4 linked regions of the Homo sapiens genome follow. The protein of the gene in region 1 interacts with the protein of each later gene in a pairwise test. Each region holds a gene or a part of one and is shown on either strand. Other genes may lie near its edges.

Region 1 (7,028 bases):
ATGCTAGTTATCTTTGAGGAGGTTCCCCGGAAGCTGTGGTGTAGTTTTTTGAGATCTTGCTCATAGAATTTAGACACCTGGTTACCCCTAGCTGTAAGGGAGGCTGGGAAGTATAGCTCTAGTTTGTTATCCATGTACCAAGCTAAAAACCAGGGGTTCTACAAGCAAGGAAAGAAAGGACATGTGGTGTGCAACTAGGAGTCTCTACCATGTAATGAACCTTTCCCTGCAAATGCCATGCACCCATCTTCCCACACACAGAGCACTCTCACCCCTGCCCTGGGTGCCTCATCCTGTCCCAGCATCCAGCCCCCAAGGTCAGGCTCTCCTGGTGATACGCAGCCCTCACCATTGGGTCTTGAAGTGACTCCTTGGAATTTTAAACCAAAATGTTAAACTTTGGGTGGACTTTTTAACTTTTGGTGAACTTTAAACCAAGAGGCAGGCTGTGTACCCCCACACCCAGTACTGAGCAGTGGAGAGAACATCGTCAGCACAATAGACTCCTGTTTGGAAGAAATGGGAACACGCAGCGGGAGCAGGCCTGGCCCCCAACAGGTCCTGCCGGGTGGGCTTGGTGAACCTCCCTGTGCCCTGTGGAGGAAGCTGCCAGGGAGGGCAGCTTCTGGTGCTCTCTGGGAGGAACGCATGTGTCCTTGGTGAAATCACGTGCTCTGTGCCTGACTCCCGCTCCTGAAGAGCCGTCCTTGTCTGTACTCTTCCAGTGCCACCAGGGAGGGGGATTCCCTTTTGAGACCTGCTTACTCTAGAAGAATGTCTAGAGGAGCCTGGGAATTGGTAGAGGCTAACACAAAAGCCAGCTGTGGGCCAGGCTTGGAGCTCCTTTGGATCCATGAGTCCAAAACTGCCCCTACAAGCTCATCCAGATGTGGGTTCAAGGCAGCCTGGCCCTTCTGCCTGCAGCTCTGCCTCTGAACCAACAGCTTGGGGGCAGGGAGGTGACCAATACACTTCCTTCAGGTTTTAATGTGAAATTGCCTAATTTTGAAATTGCAACAACAATTTTGAAATTGCAGTTTAGATGTCTGAAAGTCATAGTTCAGCACAAACAAGCATGCCTACACACAGATGTGGCTCACAGGAGCCCCAGTGGAGGGTGCTGTTGGGTGGGGGATTAAGGGCCCTTCCACTGATGTGGGCTGACATGAGGGTCTAAGCATCCCGCTTCATCTTGGCATGCATGACCAATAGCCCACACATCTGGAGGAGAGCTGGTCACAGCTGGAGAGCAGGGCTCCTGCAGGGACCGTGCGAATGAGCTGGGATCCTGGGGTAGGACAGAGGCTCAGGACACTCTGGCTGACTTCACTGCCCACCCACAGTGGGGCAAGGTGGGGGGTCAGGGCTGGCTCAAGACCTGGGTCTTGTTGTGATCCCAGAAGACAGGGCTGCCCTGCCCTGTGTGGGGCTCTGAGGAGGGAAGACTGGCCTGGAGCGGGACAGGTGCTAGGGCTGTGCCTGCCTCCCCTGCAGACTCCACCAACCGGGACTCGCTGGACATGATTGAGCGCTGCATCTGCCTTGTATGCCTGGACGCGCCAGGAGGCGTGGAGCTCAGCGACACCCACAGGGCACTCCAGCTCCTTCACGGCGGAGGCTACAGCAAGAACGGGGCCAATCGCTGGTACGACAAGTCCCTGCAGGTAAGCCGTCCAGGTGGCCCTGCAAGAGCACAGCCATGCCCCCAGCGAGAGAGTGAGTAGGCAAGCGGGCACAGCCTGGTGCCCAGGCCCGCACGTGCTTGTGTCTGGCAGGCGCACTCACTGGTTTCTGCTGCCTAAGAGGCTGGGTCTGAGGGGTCAGGAGAGCTGGAGGGGTCTGAGATGTGCTGTTGATGTCAATCTCTGGACCAGCCAGAACTCTTCTCAGGAGCCAGTGGCCGAACCCAACTCAAACTCCCTAACCTTCCTGCAGCCTGTGCCAGGAAGGTCTGGGCCAGACCTGGGGCCCATTTCCCATCACCCATCACACCTGTGAGGTGGGGGTGTGCCAGGAGTAGGAGAGTATAACAGCCCCACTGAACAAATCCTTAATGCATGCTGAAATAATAATTTCTGATGCCCAGAGCTGTCAGCTTTTTGGATGTCCACCCCCGTGGCCTGGCGATTTCAACATACCTCCCTCAATCCCTGAGAAGTAGAACAGCCCAGCATCTCCATGGAAGAAAGACTGTAAGATGAGATAAAATAATTCATATATGTTCATTTACATGACATCAGCCTAGAAGCAAGAAATTTACTTTGACCTAGAGAAAAATACCCATGCAGACGGGATGAAGTCAAGGTCAAACCATTCATTCCCATTCTGCCATCCTCCTTTTATTCCCCCAACATGCCAATCCTGAACCTAGTCTTGTTTATTTTAAAGTCACTACACTTTTATATGATATGCCATGTAGTATAAAACAGCAGGCAAAAACAAAACATCTCTCTACTTTGGGTTAGCAAAGCTCACATTGATAAGCATATCTAGACAACACCTCGTTTTCCTTTCTCTCTGTCCCTACATTCTGCAGGTTTTCCTTTTTATTGGTTTGCATATTGATTCTGTTATTTCTGATGCGCTCTCCAGCTGCTGGGCCAGCTGTTTTAGCCTCTACAGTGGTGCTAATGGCTTATCATCTTTCATGGAGCTGTGGGGGTGAACCGATATAATACATGCACAGAATCTGGAACTCAGCCTTGGTAGCAGTTTTCAAAAGACACCGCTTTCCTTCCTTCCTTCCTTCCTTCCTTCCTTCCTTCCTTCCTTCCTTCCTTCCTTCCTTCCTTCCTTCCTTTTAGTGACAGGCACAGATAAGTACTAATGTGGGGGGTGGGTGCAGCCCTCTCCACCACCTCTCATGGGTTAGTCTATGCTGACCTCCAGGTTCTTTTCATCAGCAGGGCAGATTATCAGGCGAACCAGAGAAGCCAGCAGGGCTTCATGGACCTGAATTCAAGATGATGGAGAACTGGTCTCAGGATAGCAAGGCAGGGGACACTGGGGGCGGGAGGGGAGGGCCTGCAAAGGGTGAGTTTGGGGAGAAGCTCTGTGGGAAGTGAGTTTCTTTGTAGAATGGGAGTAAAGATCCAGCCTCTGGCACACAAGGCAAGAGATTGGGAGGAGACCCCGATGTGAGCTATGACAGGAAACAGGGCTGAAGGGCCTCACCCAGGCCCCAAGGGCAGCTGGGCAGACTCGTCCTGAGGATGAACTCCTCAGAAATCCCTGGACTGCTCAGTCCGGGAACTTGGGGCTCCACCTTCACTGCCCACAGCTTTTACGGGAAAGAGGTCGTGAGTGCAGAGTAGTCTTGGATTCTCATATTCTCAGGCCACTGCAATCACATGCAGTGTTCTCTTCAGGAAATAATGTGCTCTGGTGTCCCTGGAGAAGAGGTGCCCTGAGAAGCCAGGGGCCTAACCTGGGGCCAAGGGGCTGCCTTGCAATGCTGACTCTCCCATGATCGCCCACTCCCTCTTTCCTGTTGCAGTTTGTGGTGGGCCGAGACGGCACCTGCGGTGTGGTGTGCGAACACTCCCCATTCGATGGCATCGTCCTGGTGCAGTGCACTGAGCATCTGCTCAAGCACGTGTGAGTCTGGATCCCAGGGCTGCCATGCTGGGCCCAAAAAAATGTGGGTGGTCGCTGGGGGCTGTGTCAGTCTGGAAAGCGTCTTAACAAAAGATGAATTTGAAAAAAATGTGTACTATACACACACACACACACACACACACACACACACGATGAATTTGAAACCCAGCTTTGTATGCGACATCATGTGCTTCACGGGCCATGGATAGGAGGCAGCAGATTTACGGCAGTCAGGGAGAAGCATGGCAAGGAATTCTCAGGAACCTCTGCCTTGAGAGAGGGGAAGCCTACATCGATACCTATTGCTTATCCTGAGTCAGGGCCAGGCCCACGGCTGCCCCAGCACAGGGGGAGTTCTCTGAGTCTCACTGCTTCCAAATCCCAAGGCTGGGTCCCTCCTTAGCTCCCCAGCAGGGTTCCTCTGTGCCCTAAACACATGGTATTCCTTCCTCTATTCCCAATTTTACCCATTCTCTCCTAGAATCTTCTCCCTGCATCCAAGTCTTCAATTTCTTCCATGAAACTCAGGGTTACTGAAACCTAAACCAAGCCTAGTAGGCACAAACCTTGTAGAAGAGAACAACACAGCTTGCTCTTAAATTTCTCTCCAAGTCTTCTGTAAGGGTGTAACATGGTCTAATAGGAAAACAATGAAAAGAAATAATGGGTTTTGGAGTCAGGCGGAACTGGATGGAGCCCTGGCCCTGCCACTTAATGATTTTGGTGGCCTCTCTGAGCCTCAGTTTATTCATCTGCACGGTGGTTCAGGGGCAGCTCGTACCCCCTGAAACTCCATGGCCGCAAACACTGACAGCTAAGATGATTGCACAGAGCAAAGAAGAGATGCCTCCCACAGCTGTCTGGCCGCAGAGCCTCAGGAGGTTGCCTCTGTGCCCGCAGGACGCAGAGCAGCAGGAAGCTGATCCGAGCAGACTCCGTCAGCGAGCTCCCCGCCCCCCGGAGGCTGCGGTGGAAATGCTCCCCGGAAATTCAAGGCCACTTAGCCTCCTCGGCAGAAAAACTTCAACGGTAAGGATAACCGAAGTCTCCTTTGAGGGGTCCCCTAGGGACCACCCCGCCCTTGCCTACTAGCTCCCAAGGCTCCCTGGAAGTTTCCAAAGACCCCAGCTCCTCTGCCTCTCCTTGGGCTCCACCTCGTCCCCATCCCTCATGTAGTCAAATTAAAGGAGAGATACAACTCTGGGGAAATAACCTTGCTGAAGTATCCATCATTTCTCTAAAATGCAAACGCAGGGCTATTTTTTTTTTTTTTTTTTTTTTTTTTTTCAGTTTCACCTGACTGAGCAGAGTCAAGGCCGGGAAATCATCCCCTGCTTTAGGGGGAGTAATAAACAACTGGTTTGAATAGGTCATTTGAATTCAAGCTATTTAAATTTGCTTGAATGTACAGTGCAACTTGACAAAGGGGCCTTTTTCCCCAAGGGGAGGGGGCCGTTCAGGCCCTAACGGGACCCAGGCAGGAGGGCCTGGGGCAGCAGCAAGCAGTGGTGGCAGCCACATCCTGGCAACCACGTCTGCACTGTAGCTGTTGATTCTCCCATTCAGTAAGCAAGCACGAATGCATTCATTCACTGGTTTGCTCATTCATTCATCAAACATGTGCAGAGCTCTGGTGTGCACCCGGCCCGTGGTAAGGCTCTGAGAACACAGAAAGTTAAGTACCATGGGACCTGCACTCCATATTTGAGTGGAATAAGTAGACTCCCAGGCCAAAACATGTGATACAGTAAGATTAATGCCAAAAGCAGAAACAGCCATGCTGACCTGAACCCACAAAAATATAGAAGCTGAACTCTGTCAGGACTGTGAGGGAGGGCCTTGTAGAGACGGGCCTTGAAGGATGGATAGGAGTTCATGGTGCAAGCAGATGGGGAAGAGGCAGAAAGGCAGCTTCTTCAAGCTTGTACAAGTTCATAATGATGAAGGCTGGTTTGGAGACCAGCAAGTGAGAGAATGGCCAGAGTGGGGCCACAAAAAGGAAGTTGGGCCACACTGTGATGAGTGTCACTGTCCTGTTATGGGCCTAGAGCCTGCCCTGCCACTGGAGGGTTCTGTGCAGGGGGTATGGGGACGCCCCTGAGGAGGCTGTGGGAAGGGCACATGTGAGCAGGACAGAGTGTGGCCAGGCTGGGAAGCTGAAGAGCGGGAAGGACCCATCCACTGGGAGCTGCTGGAGAGGTTGCCTGGCTTCAGTGGGCATGGAGGGGCCTCAGGTGTTCTATAAAGTGGTGCTCACATCTCAGCTTTGCAGGGTTGTTCAGGAGCTAAGTCAGGGGCCAAGGCAGTGAGCTGGTGGGCTGCTGAGTCCTCAGTGGGTAAAGGAGTCCACTCACTTCCAGGGACCTGAGCAGACCCCACATTCCCCAAGGCCCCCAGCTCCACCCTCCAGAGGCTGAGGAGAGCCAGGAAAGGCCCATGGATGGGGAAGAAGGAGGCTTCTTCCTGGGGGTCCTGAGGGGCCCATACAAGTGGGTGAGGCCCGAGTGGGCACAGCTTGGGGGAGAGATTTCCAGGTGGCTGTGGTGATAGTGAGCTCAGTCTGTCCCAGACGTCTGTCAACAGGTAGGTCTAAGGAGCGAGTACTCATGGGAACTGGGTCTCCTCCAAGTCCCCCTGTGTTCCTAGCACCTGGCCCCACCGAGAGCTGAGCTGCTGTGAGCAGGAGGAATACTTCAAGGAGAGGCAGGCAGGGAGCATGGAGTCCCGACAGAAGGTGTGCGTGTGGGCTCGGGGTTCCCACTCAGGCTATGCGCTCTCCAGTGGGGAGGCACATAGACCTTGCCAGACACTGCTCCAGTGGGCAGTCAGCTCAGACCCCAGACTCCTGATGGAGGAGGAGATTGTTCAATATGAGGGTCAGCCAGTGCTCCAGAGTCTCAGTGCAGACTTGGAAAATGTTCCTGTTACTCCGACAGTGAATTACAAAATCCCGGGCATGTCACCTGTGTCACAGTTAATCCCTGACTCACTAACACAGCCAGGCCCACCTCCCCACCCACTCTCCAGAGCAGGGCCGACACCCCACTCAGCTGAGCTCACCTTGGGTCATAGTAGTCCTGGCCTGGTTTGTCTTCTGACACTTTCATAGGTCAAGGCATGTCTCTGACACCTCAGTGCACTCCTGAAGGGCAGGGACTACGTCCGCACCTTCCAGAACGCTAGGACACAGACCAGGCTCTAGAAGCCCGGGGAAACCCCAGATGCATGCATACTGTTTTGCATGCAATAAAAACATCTTTTCTTTTTCTTCCTCAGAATAGTAAAGAACCTTGACTTCATTGTCTATAAGTTTGACAACTATGGGAAAACATTCATTAAGAAGCAGAAATGCAGCCCTGATGCCTTCATCCAGGTGGCCCTCCAGCTGGCCTTCTACAGGTGAGTGAAGGTGGAGTGAGTCTGTACCCTGG
Region 2 (5,998 bases), on another chromosome or scaffold:
CGGTGACTCACGCCTGCAAGTGTAGCATTTTTGGGAAGTGGAAAAGGGCGGATAACCTGAGGTCAGGAGTTCGAGACCAGCCTGGCTAATGTGGCGAAATCCCATCTCTACTAAAAATACAAAAATTAGCCAGGTGTGGTGGTGGGCACCTGTAATCCCAGCTACTCGCGAGGCTGAGGCAGGAGAATTGCTTGAATCTGGGAGGTAGAGGTTGCAGTGAGCGGAGATCGTGCCATTGCACTCTAGCCTGGGTGACAGAGCGAGATTCCGTCTCAAAAAAAAAAAAAAGTGGATAGAAGGATATGCATAGGTTTTATACAAATACTATGTCATTTTATTTATTTTATGTATTTATATTTTGAGACAGGGTCTTGCTTTGTCACCCAGGCTGGAATGCCGTGGTGGCATCTTGGCTCACTGCAATCTCCACTTCTTGGGTTCATGAAATTCTCTTGCCTTAGCCTCCCAAGTAGCTGGGATTACAGGTGTGCACCACCACGCCCTGCTAATTTTTCTATTTTTAGTAGAGATGAGGTTTCACCATGTTGGCCAGATTGATCTCGAACTCCTGACCTCAGGTTATCCACCTGGCTTGGCCTTACAAACTGCTGGGATTACAGGCGTGAGCCACTGCGCCTGGCCCTGAATTAATTTCTACAGCATAATTTTCTCTCTTATTTTTATTTTTTTGAATCAGAATCTCACTCTGTCGCCCAGGCTGGAGTGCAGTGGCTTGGTCTCGGCTCTCTGCAACCTCCACCTCCTGGGTTCAAATGATTCTCCTGCCTCAGCCTCCCAGGTACTTGGGACTACAGGCGCCCACCACCACACCTGGCTAATTTTTGTATTTTTAGTAGAGACTGGGTTTTGCTATGTTGGCCAAGCTGGTTTCTCTGGAATTCATTGCAGTAAACAGAATTGCTGGATCAATTAATTCACAGTTGAAGGCCAGGCACTGTGGCTCACGCCTGTAATCCCAGTACTTTGGGAGTCTGAGGTGGAGAGATCACAAGGTCAGGAGTTTGAGACCAGCCTGGCCAACATAGTGAAACCCCGTCTCTACTAAAAAGACAAAAAATTTAGCCTGGTGTGGTGGCGGGCACCTGTAATCCCAGCTACTTGGGAGGCTGAGGCAGAAGAATCGCTTGAACCCAGGAGGCGGAGGTTGCAGTGAACCAAGACTGTGCTATTGCACTCCAGCCTGGGTGACAGTCTGAGACTCTATCTCAAAAAAAAATAAATAAATAGTTGGTGATGGCCAGGCACGGTGGCTCATGCCTGTAATCCCAGCACTTTGGGAGGCCAAGGCGGGCGGATCACCTGAGGTCAGGAGTTTGAGACCACCCTAGGCAACATGGCAAAACCCCGTCTCCACTAAAAATACAAAAATTAGATGGGCGTGGTGGTGGGTGCCTGTAATCCCAGCCTGAGGCAGGAGAATGACTTGAACTCAGGAGGTGGTGGTTGCAGTGAGCTGAGATCGCGCCACTGCACTCCAGTCTGGGCAACAGAGCGAGACTCTGCCTCAAAAATAAACAAAAATAAACACTTGGTGATGAATTAATACTCTAATTTCCTCTGGTTGACTGTTGTTCTTCCAATTATTTGGCAATTCTTTTGAGCAGCAAACTATTCCCTCCCATCATTAATTTAGGATTGCTAAACAAGGCGTAGGGAGTTTAGAGAGTTTTGGTGTGTGTGGTAAGGGGATGAGGAGTCTGGCTAATTAATTGATGATGTCTCTCTCTTTTGAAGCTGGTCTCACTGATTGGTTTGGTTTTCCTGGTTTCCTGATGTGGAGGCAGAAGGCTCCTTTACTTTTCCCTCATCCCCCGAACTTCTGTGGGAAAACGGAACCTGCTGATAACTCAGTGAATTAATTGCTGCGGGGTAGTGCGGTGGAGCGGAGCAGGGAGGGACCATAATATCACCCTCCACTGGTGAGCACAGATTTTTACCCCTGCTAATGTTGTGTGGCTTTGGGTGACTAATCTGAGCTTCGGTTTCCCCACCTGTGGCATGTCCAGGACTCTGCAGTCAGACTGCCTGCTCTCAGCAGGAAGCGGTTGCATTACAACACTGTACCCTCCTTATAATAACACAACTATGGTTATGACTTAGGCGTCGTGTGGAGCCTCAGTTTCCTTTGTATAAAGAAACCAAAGAGCTCCTTTCTTTAGAGTTGTGAAAAAGACTACAGAAGTTGATCAAGCCGGGTGACAGAGTAAGACCCTGTATCATTATTATTTTATTTTGAAACAGAGTCCCACTCTGTCGCCCAGGCTGGAGTGCAGTGGCATAATCTCGGCTCACTACAACCTCCGCCTCCTGGGTTCCAGCGAGTCTCCTGCCTCAGCCTCCTGAGTAGCTGGGGTATTACAGGTGCGCGCCACCACACCTGGCTAATTTTTCATTTTTAGTAGAGACGGGATTTCACCATGTTGGTCAGGCTGGTCTCGAACTCCTGACCTCGTGATCTGCCCACCACGGCCTCCCAAAGTGCTGGGATTACAGGCGTGAGCCACTGCGCCCGGCCCCCTGTATCCTTTTTTTTTTTTTTTTTTTTGAGACGAGTCTCACTCTGTCGCCAGGCTTGAGTGCAGTGGTGCGATCTCGGCTCACTGCAACCTCCGCCTCCCAGGTTCAAGCAATTCTCCTGTCTCAGCCTCCCGAGTAGCTGGGATTACAGGCGAACGCTACCATGCCCGGCTAATTTTTGTATTTTTAGTAGAGATGGGGTTTCACCATATTGGTCAGGCTGGTCTCGAACTCCTGACCTCAGGCAATCCACCCGCCTCGGCCTTCCAAATTGTTGGGATTACAGGCGTGAGCCACCGCGCAGCCCTTCATTTTTTAAAATAAGAAATAAATGAAAAAAGATGATCAAGACAAACTCTTCATACAGTGCCCGCTGTACAAAGTAAGAAATTAATAATGGTCACGTTTGTGATTATTATTTAAACACCAAGCAGATATTAAATATTAGGGCTCAGAGAGGGCATGCGACCCGCCTGAATTCACTCAGCTGCAGAGCTGGAAAGAGAACTCAGGCCTTTTTCCCCACGCTGGAAGGGGTAGCTGGGGCGGAGAGGTGGGGGGAGCGGTGAAGAAACCCCAAGCGGCCCAAGCTGTGGGTCTGGGTTGGGAGACTCGCAGGTGTGGGGCGGGGAGGTAAGGTGACCCTTGCTCAGCGACCGCGCCCGCAAGAAACGCATTCCCAGGCCTCCCGCCCGGGGTCTGCAGGTGACGGGCTGGGGGGAGCACGGGAACTAGCTAGACCAGTTTGTCGTCTCCATGGCGACCGCCCGCGCGGCGCCAGCCTGACAGTCCGTCCGGGTTTTATGAATGGGTGACGTCACAGGCCTGGCGTCTAACGGTCTGAGCCGCTGGTTCAGACGCTGACACAGACCGGCCCGGGAAGGGAGGGGGGAGACTGTAGCTCCGCAGCTGCCGCGCCGTGGGAGGGAGACCCTGCTCTGAGGTCTTTGAGAAGAAAATTTAAAAAGCAGCCAAAAATGGGAAAAAACATTAAAAAATCACGAACTGTTGCAGGTTCAGGAAATTTTTGCAAGGAGCTGCAAATTCAAGGTGGAATCGAATGCAGCCTCACTCCACTGCGCTCTATCTAGTTCACTTCCCAGCCACCCAGCCCCAAACTTACTAGACTTTCCCGAATTAATTGCTCCCACCCGGGAGGGATCTGGGTAGGCCCTCCGGGTCTCAGGAACACGAACAGCAACATTATTTAGGAATTGAGAAAGCCCAGGGGAGCAGATGTAAAGGAGCGCCCGCTTTAAATTTCGGTCCTGATATTTGTAGATCAGGGTCCGAGAAGCATCTTCCAAGAGGGTCCGGAAACCCAGGCTCTCTGGGCTATCCAGAGCCAGCCGCTTCTCCGTTCGGGCCTCAATTTCTCTCATCTGTGAAATGGAGCTGGAGAAGTGAGAAAGTGAATATGGGAAAAACTGATTCCTGAGGTCTTTTCATTATAAGGCAATGCCTGCTTAGCTTCCTTGCCTCCTTCCAGAGGAGCCCAGTGCGGCCCTCGCCTCTACCCGCTGCCCTGCCCGGTGCCCTGCCACCGACCCACCCTTGCTGTTCTGAAACCCGGGTCGTCTTTCCACACTGCGAGCAGGCACTAGACGAGCAGGAGGCTGGACCTAGGAGCGCGGGTCACGCCCCCATGCCGCCCATTGGCTGCTTTTGAACGTTCTGAGCCCGCCCCTCCGGGGGCCGTGGCGTGTTTATAAAAGACAAGCTGTGGCTCCGCACTCTCATTCCACGTTCTTAACTGTTCCATTTTCCGTATCTGCTTCGGGCTTCCACCTCATTTTTTTCGCTTTGCCCATTCTGTTTCAGCCAGTCGCCAAGAATCATGAAAGTCGCCAGTGGCAGCACCGCCACCGCCGCCGCGGGCCCCAGCTGCGCGCTGAAGGCCGGCAAGACAGCGAGCGGTGCGGGCGAGGTGGTGCGCTGTCTGTCTGAGCAGAGCGTGGCCATCTCGCGCTGCGCCGGGGGCGCCGGGGCGCGCCTGCCTGCCCTGCTGGACGAGCAGCAGGTAAACGTGCTGCTCTACGACATGAACGGCTGTTACTCACGCCTCAAGGAGCTGGTGCCCACCCTGCCCCAGAACCGCAAGGTGAGCAAGGTGGAGATTCTCCAGCACGTCATCGACTACATCAGGGACCTTCAGTTGGAGCTGAACTCGGAATCCGAAGTTGGAACCCCCGGGGGCCGAGGGCTGCCGGTCCGGGCTCCGCTCAGCACCCTCAACGGCGAGATCAGCGCCCTGACGGCCGAGGTGAGATCCAGATCCGACCACTAGATCATCCTTATACCGACGGGGAAACGGAGGCCAGAGAGGGCGTGGGCGCTTGCACCACTTCCGTCCCATCCTTGCGGGTACCTGGCTATGCGGGGGTGCCTAAGGAGCCTGGAAAAAGCGCTCCCCCGTCGTGCTTCCTGGGGAAGGGGGCGTTCGCTGCGCTCGGAGCGGCGTCCCTTCCAACCCGCCGGTCTCATTTCTTCTCGTTTTCACAGGCGGCATGCGTTCCTGCGGACGATCGCATCTTGTGTCGCTGAAGCGCCTCCCCCAGGGACCGGCGGACCCCAGCCATCCAGGGGGCAAGAGGAATTACGTGCTCTGTGGGTCTCCCCCAACGCGCCTCGCCGGATCTGAGGGAGAACAAGACCGATCGGCGGCCACTGCGCCCTTAACTGCATCCAGCCTGGGGCTGAGGCTGAGGCACTGGCGAGGAGAGGGCGCTCCTCTCTGCACACCTACTAGTCACCAGAGACTTTAGGGGGTGGGATTCCACTCGTGTGTTTCTATTTTTTGAAAAGCAGACATTTTAAAAAATGGTCACGTTTGGTGCTTCTCAGATTTCTGAGGAAATTGCTTTGTATTGTATATTACAATGATCACCGACTGAAAATATTGTTTTACAATAGTTCTGTGGGGCTGTTTTTTTGTTATTAAACAAATAATTTAGATGGTGGTAAAGTTGTAGTGACTTCTTGGGTTGAGGGGAGGGGCCTGGGCTGGGGGTTGACCCCTGACCCTCTTCACAGCTGGTTCTGGGAGGAGAATTGGAGGGCTACATCTGGATTGTTGCTCTTACCGGCCTGAATGAGTGTTTCCGGTGTCTTTAAAGTCTATTCTTCCCCCACCATCCCTGCCCATTTCCCTGCTCCCCAGTGTTATAAAACTAAATACTCCAGACCTCTGGGGTTTCTCACAGTGATCATTGGGCCATCTAGATCACCTGGGGAGGTTGTTAAAATGCAGATGAACCTGCCAGGGCCCCCTCTGTATTGGGAGTATTGAGCAAGCCATTTAAGTTGGAGAACCTGGCCGCTGGACCACCCACTTCCTTGCCAAGATGTGGATAAAGTGAGACCCAGTGGAAAGGGACTTGCTTAGGGCCATAGCTTGTGAGAGGCAGTGATTCTATCACCCCATTCCCCAGTTGGAGGTGCCTCCCCCAACAGCCTACCT
Region 3 (7,028 bases), on another chromosome or scaffold:
ATACAATGTTTGGTTTTCCATTCCTGAGTTATTTCACTTAGAAAAATAGTCTCCAGTCTCACCCAGGTGGCTGCGAATGCCATTAATTCATTCCTTTTTATGGCTAAGTACTATTCCATCATATATATATATATATATATCAGAGTTTCTTTATCCACTCGTTGATTGATGGGCATTTGGGTTGGTTGAGTGGGCCCTATTTTAATATGACTGGTGTCCTTATAAGAAGAGGAGAAGAGACACACGTGTGCAACAGCTGTGTGAAGACGAAGCAGAGATTGATCTTCTGTTGTTGCAAGCCAAGGAACGCCTGGGCTGTCGAAAGCTGGAAGAGTCGAGGAAGCATCAGCCCGTACCCAAGAGGCAGTGGAGGGAGTGTGACCCTGCTGGCACCTTCATTTCAGACATCTAGCCTTCGGAACTGTGAGAGAACACATTTTTGTCATTTTAAGCCTCCCAGTTTGGGATACTTTGTTACAGCAGCTGCAGGAACAAACCAAAGCACCTCCCGTGATGGTTAATTATATACGTCACCTTGCCTAGGCCATGGTGCCACAGGGTTTAGACAAATGCCAGTCTTTGTGTGTGTGTGTGTGTGTGTGTGTGTGTGTGTGTGTGTGTCAGAGAGAGAGAGAGAGAGAGAGAGAGAGACGGAGTCTTACTCTGTTGCCAGGTTAGAGTGTAGTGGCGCGATCTCCGCTCACTGCAACCTCCACCTCCTGGGTTTAAGCGATTCTCCTGCCTCAGCCTTTCGAGTAGCTGGGATTACAGGCACACACCACCATGCCCAGCTAATTTTTGTGTTTTAGTAGAGACGAGGTTTCACCATGTTGGCCAGGATGGTCTTGATCTCTTGTGGTCTCGCGATCCACCTGCCGTAGCCTCCAAAGTGCTGGGATTACAGGTGTGAGCCACCACGCCCGGCCAGGAAGGCATTTTTTAGATGTGATTTGCTGTAAAATGTGTAGCCTTTGAGTAGAGGAAATGACCTTCCACAATGTGGGTGGGCTTCATCCAATTAGTTGTAGGCCTGAAGAGAAAAGAGTGAAGTTCCCCAAGTAGGAGGGAGTCTCGGACCTCCTTCCCATGCAAGCTGCGGCACCAGGTCTTCCCTGGGTCTCCGGCCTGCTGGCAGATTTTAGATTGCCAGCCCCCAGAATCACATGAGCCAGTTTCTTAAAATCAACCCGTCTCGCTCTCTCCTCTCTCTCTCTTCTTCTTCCTTTCCTCCTTCTCTCCTCTCCCTGTCTCGCTTCCCTCTCTCCTTCTCCCCTCCTCCACCTCTACCTCTCCCTTCCCTCTCTCTTTCTCTCCGTCTCTTTCCCGCCTCCATATATATCACCTGTGGGCTCTCTGTCTCTCTGATAACCCTAACTAGCATGCCACCCCCCCATTCAGAACCCTTCATACTTCCCATGGAGTGGAGCCTGGCATTTCCCTCAGGCCTCTCTCCCCCAACCCGCCCACCTTCTCTCCTGCCAGCACCCTGCACTCGGGGCAGGCCATCTGTAGCTCAGCACTGCACTGTGAGGTCAGGTGCGTGACCAGCTGTGGGGCTGCCCCAGGGCTCGGAGGCCTTTCTTGTGTGCACCTTAGGTGTGGGAGCTGCTTCTTCCTAATGGGGGCATGGAAGCAGCAGGGCAGAGGCCGGCAGCCTGGGCTGTCCGGGACAACAGTGTTCATCCCACCAGATGCCACTGTAAGGAGTCCAGGTGGAGCCGAAGCTCAGAATCCGGGTACTGCACGTGCTGAGGACCAAGATGCAGTCGGGACCTTGCCTTCAGGGAACTCCCCACCCCCAGTCGGGCCAGCCTGAGCCAAGAGAAGCAGCCAAAAGCCCTGGAGGCTCCCTGGCCTGTTGGGCAATGGAAGTGGACGTGGAGTGGACAGCGCCAATGGGTGTGGGGCAACCTGCCAGCAGACTCAGCCACCAGAAGCCCCGGGCACATGGAAACGCGGCCACACAAACGGCCCCATCAGGAAATCCCAAAAGACCAAGAAGCACGACTCAAACTCCACCACAGACAGGGACCTGGGACTGGCATGGCCGCTCCTGCCCTCCTTCCCCAGTTCTCTCCCATGCCTGTCCCTCTGCAGATTTGACTCTTTAAGGACAGTCGCAGTGATGGGAGTGGCGGGACACTAGCATCATCGCCCATCAGGGCTCGGGGCTGGGACATGAGCAGCCAATGCAGCCGTCATTCTCCCAAGAGTGAGCCACCTGGGGCTGGGGGAGGCCAAGGGCTCATTCGAGGCAGTTGGGTCCTGTCCTCACCTGTCAGTGCTGCCTGTCTACAGGGCCTGACCAAAAGGCTGCTCCCCAGTTACCACCCTCCATGGCTCCTGGGCAGTGGGGATTGGGGCTTTTGTGTGGCACCCTGCAGGTCTTCCTCCTGTGAGCCTAGAGAGGAGCGGGCAAGAGACCCTTCTCCTTGGACATGCTGGTATAGCCTCCTCCCCAACTCTGCCCCAAACCCAGGCCTGATGACTAAGAAACTGGCCTCACACACTCATCAGTCTCTGCCTCTCCTCAATCAGGAGGCTTTTCAGCTAAACGCTGAGAACTTCAGCCAATGAAGAGTTCACACTGTGGAACACATTTGGCAGTGCCCATAACTCACGCCTTGTTTATTCTCACCGATGCTCTTATCATAGCGCATGTGTTCCAGCCACTCCACGCATGTCATCTGTCCAGAAAGAGAAAGTGCTTGTTTATTTCTTACTGTGCGGGGGGATGGAGCTCCCTTACAGATTGTGAACCTTATATTGACAGGAGAAGAGAGGTAACTCAAGACACCGAAAGTGGGGTGTGCGTGGTTGGTCTTGGATTCTGTCGCAGGGGTGGAGGTGGGGAGGCAGGGAAGGTGCGTGGCAGCATTGGTGGCGTTGGATGGAAGAGGAGGTGGGTTGTGGCTGGAGTTGCTCTGCAAGGCCACTGATGTTATCTAGATTGTACGTTTTATTTGGGGGCTTGAGAGGGGCTGGAGGTGGTTATACTGAGGCCAAAACTCCTTCCCACCCATAAGTGCCCCCCACGGCACTGGTACCACTGACCCCTGGTGGCAAACCTTCCTCATCCTCGTGAGCCCTTAGCTGTACTTCCCTGAGCGCTGATGGAGCTGTCCAGGGTCCTGACGTGCAGCCCACTTGGGGATGTGCAGACCCCTGCCCCAGGATACCTAAGGTTTCTCCTGGTTTTCACTTGCCCAGAGCCAGCAGTGGTTTTTGCTTCAGCCTTTATCTGACTGGTGCATGGAAGAGCAGTTTTCTTCCTAGTGGGGACACTAGGTTCACGGCAAAGGGGAGGTCCCTTTAGATTTCCTTCATTACGTTTCTTCTTTATTCGAAAGTGAACTTGTAGCCAGGTATGGTGGCTCGCACCTATAATTCCAGCCCTTTGGGAGGCCGAGGCAGGAGGATTTCTTGAGGCCAGGTGTTTGAGACCAGCCTGGACAACATAGCAAGACCCCATCTCTAACTATTTCTAAAATAAATGTAAATTTTTTTTCTTTTTCTTTATTTTATTTTATTTTTTTGAGACAAAGTCTCACTCTGTTGCTCAGGCTGTAGTGCAGTGGTGTGATCTCAGCTCACTGCAATCTCTGCCTCCTGGGTTCAAGTAATTTTCATGTCTCAGCCTACTGAGTAGCTGGGATAACAGGCATGCACCACCACACCCAGCTAATTTTTTTGTATTTTTAGTAGAGATCGGGTTTCACTATATTGGCCAGGCTAGTCTCGAACTCCCGGACTCAAGTGATCAGCCCATCTCAGCCTCCCAAGTGCTGGGATGACAGGCATGAGCCACCGTGCCCGGCAGTAAATTTTTAAAAATGTTAAAGTGAGCTTGTGGGGATAGGTCTAATCTTTGCCTGATAAGCTGCCGTAAGTCTAAGGGTTGGGAATAGCTTATGGCAAACTCAGGCTCTACTTAAGATGTTACTGATCTCTCTTACTCTCCACAAGGCAATTTTTCCTTTCAAAGGAGGAAGTTGCAGGCAGGTTGGCTTTATGGACACATGTAAACAGGAAATCAGGAGACTCGCCCAGCCCCAGGCTTTGTCTAGAAGGAACTTTTCCTCTAGTTAATGCCAAGGGCTCTAGCTCAGCGAGCATTAGAGTGGGACAGCCCCAGAAGCTTAGGCTCAGAGTCCAGAGGTCCAGGAGACAGTGTCCCCCTGTCCAGTCCTCACAGGTAAAATGGAACAGGACCACAGCCCACTGCCCTCCGAGGCTGTGGGGACAGTGCCAGTGGGAGGTCATGGCCTCAGGGGCTGCAACCTCAACAAGCACATGGCCTTCCATCTTCCCCCCGACTGGCAGGATCCCTTTTGGAAGTGGCTTCTCAGCCCCACTCTTGGCCAAATCTGGCATGACTCATTTGCTTTAGAAAAGGAATATATAAGCACCGTCACACCTTGATGAGATGACAGGAGTGACAAGCAGAGTGATTTCCCATATCTGAGACTCTGAGGAGGAGAGGTGGTTTAGCAGAGCCAGCTGCCATAACCAGAAGAAAATAATTAAGGAAATCTGGCAGAGTAGAGGAAAACCAAGTGGTGCAGCGGGTCCCTTCTAGTGAAGGGAGCTGTCATCATCGGCTGCGGGAGAGAAAGGAGCTCTGGAGGCTCGTGCTGGGACAGCTGCAGTAATGATGGGATGGGGAAGAGGAGGGGGTGGCTGTCAAGGAGGGAAATAGACTCTGGGCATGGCAGGGGGTGGCAATGAGCAGCTTGATTCTAAAGACTCCTCTCTCAGGCCAGGCACCTGCTACTTACACCCCACACCCTGAAGGGTGCAGCCAGGTCTACTTGGAGCTTCCCCTCAGTCTCCAGGGAAGAGTCTAGAAGGCCTGTTTCAAAGATCCCCCACATGCACGCATGTGCACATAAGCTTGGGAGTGCCCAGGAAGATGGGGACACTCTGCCCTTTGCCCAGGGGAGAGCATACCCTTGTTCCCAGCCCAAAGGGACAAGCGGAAGAAAGATGAAATGTGTCCCAGTTCTGCCTGCATTTCTGCCTCTCTTGGGACTTGAGGAAGGTTCGGGCAAGCTCAGGGAATTCAGGCTGTCCATTCCAGGGCTGACCTTGCATCTCCTTCCTGGCCTGCTAATGACTGAAGGAGACGTGCGGGCACGGCCTCAGCCTTACATTGTCTGGGGCATGGCAGTGGCTGAGTCTGTAAAACTGGACCTCATGGAGAAATCCACAGAATCTCTGGCTCAGGGAAGACCTGGAGATCCCTTCACCAGCTGGGCTCCTGCCACTGGACCTCTGCCCAGGACGTGGAGACAGCCAGGAAAGTGGTGGGACACTGGAACCCCCCTCCCGCAGGCAGCAGCCAGGATTTGCTCAGGTGTGGTCGGGCATGGTGCCCCGGCGCGCCAGCCAGAAGATCCAGCTCTCTCCTTAAGGGATAGCTGGCTCTGATGGTGACCATGGCTTTTGGCAGAGCCTCAGGACGAAAATGTCCACCCACATGGTACTGGAGCAGAAAGAGCCCCTGATTCCTCGGTGGCCAGGTAGGGACTGGGGAAGGAGGCTCCAGCTTCTAAATAGATTCCCCCCAAAGGGAATCTCCTTGTCCTCCTGCGACTTTCCCCCAAAGCAGACCAAATGAGGTATGACACAGAATATTCTGCTCTGGCCAAAGGTTCACCTCACCAGAGCTTGCTTCTTAGGTGAGCCCAGCCCAGGCATGGGCCTCCTTGGTAGGCAGAGGGGGCGTTCCAGAGCATGGCCATTGATGCACTGGTCTCTCTGTGTCTTCCTGAGGTCATCAGTAAGTTAACGCTGGACAATTACCCTCTACCTGGGCGCTGCTTAGGGCTTTGGGGGAGACCAGGGCGAGCAAGATATGCTTAGCTCACCCCAGAACTCCAGAGCCAGCTGAGAAGGCCAAGATCACAAAGCAAATGCCCAGGTTAGGGAACTTCCTGTAGCAAGAGGAGAAGAAGCACGTTCCATTCCTAGGCCTGGTGTGTGCAAAGGTGTGGGTGTGAATCATATTCCAAGCATAGAGAATCCACAGTGGCCAGAACTGGGGCATGGCTGATGGGGTGTGGAGAGAGAGTGGATCGAGCTTTCTGAAGGGTCCTTTCCCTGTGACTTAATGACATGGTGGGGTGCAGGAGGAGGTGGCCTGTGAGAGTCCTGGCTGCTCCACAGGGCAGGTATGGGCACACCTGGGCAGGGTGCCTTTCCAGACCTTGTAGATCACATCAGGAGGCAGGCGTGATGCAGAGAAGAGAGCCTCAGCTGCGAGCCAGTGGGACCACATGTTTGCTGCGTCCCCATTTTCTGCATGGGTAGGGGATGGAGGGGCTCCAGCACTGAGCCATGCCCTAAGCTGCCTTTCCCTAGAGCCTACCCCAAGATCCCTCCAGCCTGGATGTCCACAGCCAGCAGCCCATAAGCAGTTCCCTGGGAGCCATGTGGCAGATCCGCTAATACTGTCCTCTCCTCTGTTTGCTTTTCAGGAATAAAGTTCAACATCAGGCCAAGGCAGCCCCACCACGTAAGTTCTGAGAGTCAGATAAATCTCAGTGCACACAGCCCTTGGGAAACTGGGGAGGGCTGGGAAGAAAATTAGGAGCTCACATTGGATCCATTCTTGGAAAGAAAAATGTGTCCAGCCTTTCCCAGGAGCCTTGGGAACAAAGCCCAGGGCTCTGGACCCATGAATTTTCCCTTCCTTGTTAGAAGGCTTCTTTGCACGGTGCTAATAGAGGCCGTAAATCTGAGCCCGCCTGCAGGCCACCTATTCCCGCCACCCTCTCCCAGGCCAGGTTCCTGGGAGGACCGCGCCATCTTGTGGCCGAAATGACACTTACACCTCAGCGGGAGGGAGGCCTTTGGGTGCCGGGCCAGGGCTCAGACCGGAGGGGTCTCACCTACAGAGTCAGCCTGTCTCCCTCACCTGAGAGGGACAGGAACCCCAGCCGTGGTGAGAGCCTGACCTGTGTGGCCCTCAGTGCCCAGCTGTCCTTTCCACTCAGATAACCACTTCTCTTCTTGCCCCAGGACCT
Region 4 (7,028 bases), on another chromosome or scaffold:
TTAAAGGTAATTGCAGCAGTAGACGCTGGGGTCTAATGTGTTGAGTTTTATTAAAATGAGAAATATGTTTTTCAGGTGCTTAAGAGCAGCTGGCGACAAAAAATAGTTTGAAAAAAACGCTTAAAGTGAATTTTTGAATAAAATGTTTTCTTTCACGGAACCAGGGGAAAAGGTGGTTTAGAGTTTAGGAGTTCACTTAGAAACTTTGTAGTTGTCACTTTTCTAGCTATAATGTTCCTAGCTATATTATATTATAGTTCCTATAATTTTCAAAAGCTGCCTGATTATTTGTTTTGACAGATAGGTTGCCTCATTCTGCAGTATGTTTACAATTATATTGATAGGGAATATGCATTTATTTCATTATTGTTCATAGCCCTTTCAGTTTTGGAGTTTAGTTAGGGTTAAAAATTTCCCTTCTAAAAAGGAATTTTCAGGAGCAAAAGGATTCACCCCTTTCTCTGCCCTTTACCATCTACTGTAGCCACATGCTTGAGGGTATTTAGTGTCTGGGGAGTGGGTGGGTTCTGGGAAGGTTGGATGGGCAGGTGAAAGGTAGGGAATGTGAACTCTGTGCTTACCCTGGGCCGCATTTAGCCTGAAAATCCAGAGGTTTCCTTAACAAGTTTGCGGATTTTGAGGCAAGGATTTTTTATATTAGTTCTTTTCAGAGAGATTGTTATTGGGTTTCTTTCTGAGAGGAGAATGGTTGACAAAATTTAACATGAGTTTAGGCACTTAGAATGAATGTGTCATTTAGTTGTTTTTAAAGTAATTGTTACAAGAGTGTGGGTAAATTCCTTGGGTTCCCCCCCACCCTTTTAACTTGAGTTACCTCTTTAGTAAAGAGAACTGTATATTAATGACATGTACTTTCCTATACTGATGCCCTCAGGAGAAGCTAGAGCATCAATATGCACAGAGCTATAAGCAGGTCTCAGTGTTAGAAGATGATTTAAGTCAGACTCGGGCCATTAAGGAGCAGTTGCATAAGTATGTGAGAGAGCTGGAGCAGGCCAACGACGACCTGGAGCGAGCCAAAAGGTAAACGAATGACTGCATTTTGTTAGAAAAAAACCACCTTGGTAATTAGTGATTAAAATCTTTATTAGGCTCTTCCCCTAGATCTTAGTCCCAGAACATTTCCTGTTGGTGTTTCATGTCACCTGTAACTCATCGGACGGAAGGGAACCCCAAATCCTCATCTCCCAGATAACGCCCTTCAAAGCTTTCTCTTTCAATTTTTCTTTTTTCCTTCTTTCATATACTGTGGTTGATCCTATTGGTTTTGTTTTGTTTTTTGAGACAGGGTCTCACATTGTCGCCCAGTCTGGAGTGCAGTGGCATGATCTCGGCTCACTGCAACCTCTGCCTCCCAGATTCAAGCGATTCTTGTGCCTCAGCCTTCCAAGTAGCTGGGATTATAGGCATGTGCCACCACACCCAGCTAATTTTTGTATTTTTAGTAGAGACGGGGTTTTGCCATGTTGGCCAGGCTGGTCTTGAATTCCTGCCATCAAGTGATCTGCCCACCTTGGCCTCCCAAAGTGCTGGGATTATAGGCATGAGCCACTGCACCCAGCCTAGGTTTTGTGTATTTATTTATTTTTTAAACTGTCTCATGCATTCCCCCATCTTCCCTCTGTGCTCTTAACACTTCCATACTTCCTGTAGGTCCTCATATCTTATACCTGGATTCTGTAGTTATCCTCTAGCTGATATATCTTTATATTTCTGTTCCTTTTTATTCTCTTTTAATACTGACTGATGAATTTTCTTAAAATGTTGATTTCAGTTCAAATTTCTGAACAACGTGCAGTGGCTTGCTATCACTGTTGCCAAACTTTTATGCATGTGTAATTAGTTGTTTCTTAACCATTCCAAACTTAATTCCTATTACTTTATAATTGTTTCCTGGTATTTCCTTCCTTAATATTTATCCAGTGAGTCTTAAGTGACTGACATGATGCTAAACTTACAGATGCGGAGCTAGTCTGGTCACTACCCTTGGGGGTGACAGATATGTACATTCACTATGTTAATACCCTAGTAAAAAAAAGTGGGCAAGCTGCTGCTCCAGGGCATAGAGGAGGCAGCAGCCAGATTGGTTGCGGGGAGGTGGGCGGGGGGGGGGCAGTGGGGGAACCAATCAGAGGCTGAAGTGAAGTTACAAAGTGACACCCTATGCAAATGTCTGAGTGGTTGCAGAAAGCAAAGGGAATAGCTTCTGGTCCTTTTCTTACTTAGGTGTGGAAAGTTCCGGTTTTCCTTTTGATTTAGTTCTAGGAAGTCAGTGTGAATTGGCCTTAGGTTCCCTGACTTGGGACTTAATGTTTTAAACAAACTCTTACATATATTACAAGTTTTGAAAAGTTTTCTTTCTGAAAATGTGTAAACTTGATTGTATTGTGTTCAAAACACAGTGGAGATATAAATAGTGTAACAAATAGCCTTTCTGTAGGGAACATTAAGGAATAGATGGGAATTTAAAAGAATGTATTGTATATATTGCCCAACTGATAGAGACACTACGTGCCAGCAGTGGTCAGGAAGGGGCAAGATCATCTTCTTTGATTGGGGCCAGGCTGGCTAGGTCAGGAAATGTCACGAGATAAACTGACAGTTTCCTTTTGTACTATCTGTTTGCACATGTTATTTATTTAATTCATGTACTCTAATTTTTCTTTTTAGGGCAACAATAGTTTCACTGGAAGACTTTGAACAAAGGCTAAACCAGGCCATTGAACGAAATGCATTTTTAGAAAGTGAACTTGATGAAAAGGAATCTTTGTTGGTCTCTGTACAGAGGTTAAAGGATGAAGCAAGAGGTAAAATTTATAACTTAAAGAATACAGTTGACCCTTGAACAACATGGGTTTGAATTGTGTGGGCCCACTTATACTCTGATTTTTTTTCAACCAAATGTGGATTGAAAATACAGTATTCACGGCATTCAAAACCCTGTATATGGAGGGCTGACTTTTCATATATACGGGCTGACTGTGGGACTTCAGTATGCGCCAATTTTGGTGTAGGTGGGGGTCCTGGAACCAATCCCCATGTATACTGAGGGACAACTGTATTTATCCTCCCTTACCTTACTGTCCCTATGCCAGAAGAAGCTTAGAGTCAACTTTTTTTGGAGACGAAGTCTCGTACTTTCACCCAGGCTGGAGTGCAATGGCACAATCTCAGCTCACTGCAAATTCCGCCTCCTGGGTTCAAACAATTCTCCTGCCTCAGCCTCTCGAGTAGCTGGGATTACAGGCGCCCGCCACCACACCCAGCTGATTTTTGTATTTTTAGTAGAGACGGGATTTCACCATATTGGCCAGGCTGATCTCGAACTCCTGACCTCGTGATCCGGCCGCCTTGGCCTCCCAAAATGCTGGGATTACAGACGTGAGCCACCGCGCCTGGCCCCATCCAGCTAATTAAGAAAACATTTTTTTTGTGGAGACAGTCTCAGTATGTTGGCCAGGCTGGTTTTGAACCCTTGGCCTTAAATGGTCCTTCTGGTTCTGTCTCCCAAAATGTTGGGATTATGGGTGTGAGCCACTGTGCCTGGCTTCTTAATCATTTTAAAGTGTACAGTCCAGTAGTGTTAAGTATAGTCAAATTGTTGTGTAAACAAATTTTTAGAACTTTTTCATCTTGCAAAACTGAAACTATACCTATTGAATAGTGACTACCCATTTTCCCTTCCCTTCAGCCCCTGGCAACCACAGTTCTATTTTCTATGAGTTCAGCTACTTTAGATACCTCATATAAGGGAGATTATACAGTATTTGTGACTGGTTTATTGCATTTAGCATAATGTCCTCAAGGTTTATCCATGTGTAGTATGTGACAAAATTTCCTTCTTTTTTAAGGCTGAATGATACTCCATTGTATGTATTCATTTTCTTTATCTGTTCATCTGTGGATGGACATCGAGTTGCTCCCATCTCTTGCTATTGCGAATGATACCGCTGTGAACATGGGTGTCCAAATATCTCTTTGAGATCCTGTTTTGAATTCTTTTGGATACATACCCAAAAGGGGGATGACTTTGTTCCTTTTTTAACACAAGCAAATATTCTGTAAGTTAAATTGCATAATTGGAAAAGATAACATTAATTTTGGGTTAAAAACTCGACATTGGCTGGGTGTGGCGGCTCACGCCTGTAATTCTAGCACTTTGGGAGGCTGAGGCGGGTGGATCATTTGAGGTTAGGAGTTCGAGACCAGCCTGACCAACATGGTGAAACCCCATCTCTACTAAAAATTCAAAAAAAAAAATTAGCTGGGTGTGGTGGCGGGCACCTGTAATCCCAGCTACTTGGGAGGCTGAGGCAGGAGAATCGCTTGAACCCAGGAGGTGGAGGTTGCAGTGAGCCGAGATTGCGTCACTGCACTCTAGCCTGGGCGACAGAGTGAGACTCCGTCTCAAAAAAAAAAAAAAACGCTCAATATTTGAAAGCATGAGAAAAATTTAAACCGTTCTGAATACTTCTTTTCTAAAAGTAAATATTTCATAGTGATAATAGTTAATGCCAGCCCATTTAAAATTACAAAAATGCACTTAGTTGATTTTGCAATAACCCCAAAACTACATCATTTGAAAATAAAAGCAAATAAGTTGGTGAAGAATATTTACTTTTGTGTGAATTGTACTGTGGACTCTGCACTGTTTCTTTTTGCATATAAGCATAAGTAACTTCTCTCAGGTTATAGCATTTTTAAATTCTAAAAGATCATTTAGACAGTAGTTTTGCCATTTTTATTCCCCTAGAAATGAAAGTTATACTTAAATAGGAAATTCATTTTTGAGAAATAGTAATTTAGGAAGAAGACCTTTATGACATTTTAGATGTCACTTTGCTTGATATATTTGCTCCCTCTAGTGAGTATTCCTGCCCTTGTTTGCAATATTTTACAGATTTAAGGCAAGAACTAGCAGTTCGGGAAAGACAACAGGAAGTAACTAGAAAGTCGGCTCCTAGCTCTCCAACTCTAGACTGTGAAAAGATGGACTCCGCCGTCCAAGCATCACTTTCTTTGCCAGCTACCCCTGTTGGCAAAGGAACGGAGAACACTTTTCCTTCACCGAAAGGTTTGTAATGTCTTTTCTTTTTGAGGCGATGTGTTAGATGATCAGCTTACGGGGGTTTGTTGCTGAAGGCGGTTGCTAAGGTTTAAAGAGTAATTTTAGTTTAAAAGTTGGTGAAGTCTAGTGCTATGTGAAATAGAAGAAGGAATTGTTTTCCTAGGCCACTAATATATAGGAAACAGTGAAATGATGGTTACATTTAAGATGAGATTTTTAAAAGTTAAAGGTTTTTAAGGAAAGTTTATTTTTTGATGATAGCAATAGATTTTGTGATTACAGCCGTATGTTTAGGTAGAAAATTTTAAAAACACAGAAAAAGAAAATAAAAATCATGTTATCTTACCACTTACAGGCACCCACCATTAACATTTTGAGTTTTTTTTTCTATTGTGTGCTTGTGTGTGTTTGTGCACATCTCTTTGTCACATGCAAATTTGGGGATCATATTTAAACACAGTTTTATTTCTTCCTTTTGCCACTTTCCATATCATGGGAGACCTGAGGCCTTTCTACATAGAATGTACAGAGAATCATTAAGTTATCTTTCAGACTCATGTAAGACCGGCTTGGATGGACATGCCCATTCTGTTACATGCTTCAGGAGCTGCCATTTTCAAAAGCATTGTTCGGAGTAATTGATGATTGGCACATACAGAATACTCACATTGCCATGAACCAGTGTGTTTTTTTAAAATCCGGATAAGCAGAAAAACCACCTAGTAGCCACTAGATAGAACCTTAAAATGGAATCTTAAAGCTCTCAATTGAGATTTGTTTAGATTTTGCAGCTCGTAGTTCATATTTCTGCTACTCTCATCCCCCCTTGCTTTTTTTTTCCACCCTATATTGAAGCTGTCATCCCACCCTTTTTAAAATATAGGGTTTTATCTTTTAGAATGCTATGTGGGCAACTAGTACAGTGAGCTCTCTCTGTCTGTGCTACTCAATAGTCACCAGCCCATGTGGCTATTTAAATTTATATTAAAATGAAATAAAATATAAAATTCAGTTTCTTTGTCACATTAACCACATTTCAAGTGCTCAGTAACCCTTGAGTAGGTAATTCAACTTGTCTTTGCCTTGTTACGAGATGATATCAGATAAGGTATGTGAAGGTGCTGTATGGTTGTAAGGTGTTACTAATTGCGCTAGGTTTACTGCTGAGGACAAAGGGCAGGCAATAGATTATTAGCAGTCATCAGGAGCCCTCACGGTCAGTTTTTCAGAAGAGCTGCTTGTATATTTGAAGATTTCACAATTACACCTGAGGACTAACAAAGTTTTACTTTTATGTTACTGATTAGAATTATGCAGATCTGAAAATCCTTTAATTGAAGACGAATCAGAATAGTGAAAAGCCTCAGGTGCGGTGACACCCACAGGTGGTGCACATTTTTTTTTAATAGCCCGTTAGAGTTTTCATTCAGGGACTTGGGGAGTCAAAAGGACATGGAGCCTGCTGTGGCACGGCATGAGGTGTGCCAACCCTATGGCAGTAATATTTGCTTAATAGATATGTTTTTAGGCTGGAACCAATAGCATGAATTTTCACTGGCTAACCTAAAAGCTGCTGTGTACTAGATCACTGCAATTTCATTACAAGAAAGCACAGAGTTGTGAGCAGCAGCAGGTGGTCAGAGAAATCGGTAAGATCTTAGAGCTGATCTTTCTGAAGTGGTCTGTCTTTAATTGTATTTTACCTTTTACAATGTTTGTTTCTCTTTCTTTCTTTCTTTCTCTTTCTTTCTTTTTCTTTCTTCCTTTCTTTCTTTTCTTTTCTTTTTCTTCTCTTTTTTTTTTTTTTTTTTGACAGAGTTTTGCTTTTTTTGCCCAGGCTAGAGTGCAATGGTGCGATCTTGGCTCATTGCAACTTCCGCCTCCTGGGTTCAAGTGATTCTCCTGCCTTGGCCTCCCAAGTAGCTGGGATTACAGGTGT

What was found.
Region 2: the proteins of CHAT (region 1) and ID1 interact in binary tests that used the Homo sapiens proteins (3 or more experiments, as listed by UniProt).
Region 3: the proteins of CHAT (region 1) and CHST8 interact in binary tests that used the Homo sapiens proteins (3 or more experiments, as listed by UniProt).
Region 4: the proteins of CHAT (region 1) and NDEL1 interact in binary tests that used the Homo sapiens proteins (3 or more experiments, as listed by UniProt).

The regions. Positions count from the first base shown.
Region 1 is NC_000010.11:49,645,011-49,652,038, forward strand, and holds part of CHAT (choline O-acetyltransferase), read left to right. Parts: intron 1-1,494; coding exon 1,495-1,664; intron 1,665-3,496; coding exon 3,497-3,597; intron 3,598-4,497; coding exon 4,498-4,626; intron 4,627-6,873; coding exon 6,874-6,996; intron 6,997-7,028. UniProt on the Homo sapiens protein: Catalyzes the reversible synthesis of acetylcholine (ACh) from acetyl CoA and choline at cholinergic synapses.
Region 2 is NC_000020.11:31,601,013-31,607,010, forward strand, and holds ID1 (DNA-binding protein inhibitor ID-1), read left to right. Parts: upstream 1-4,276; 5' UTR 4,277-4,375; coding exon 4,376-4,801; coding exon of another isoform or gene 4,802-4,825; exon of another isoform or gene 4,826-5,040; coding exon 5,041-5,082; 3' UTR 5,083-5,498; downstream 5,499-5,998. UniProt on the Homo sapiens protein: Transcriptional regulator (lacking a basic DNA binding domain) which negatively regulates the basic helix-loop-helix (bHLH) transcription factors by forming heterodimers and inhibiting their DNA binding and transcriptional activity.
Region 3 is NC_000019.10:33,764,934-33,771,961, forward strand, and holds part of CHST8 (carbohydrate sulfotransferase 8), read left to right. Parts: intron 1-6,479; coding exon 6,480-6,517; intron 6,518-7,023; coding exon 7,024-7,028. UniProt on the Homo sapiens protein: Catalyzes the transfer of sulfate to position 4 of non-reducing N-acetylgalactosamine (GalNAc) residues in both N-glycans and O-glycans.
Region 4 is NC_000017.11:8,445,859-8,452,886, forward strand, and holds part of NDEL1 (nuclear distribution protein nudE-like 1), read left to right. Parts: coding exon 1-6; intron 7-895; coding exon 896-1,044; intron 1,045-2,691; coding exon 2,692-2,828; intron 2,829-4,921; coding exon 4,922-5,095; intron 5,096-7,028. UniProt on the Homo sapiens protein: Required for organization of the cellular microtubule array and microtubule anchoring at the centrosome. May regulate microtubule organization at least in part by targeting the microtubule severing protein KATNA1 to the centrosome.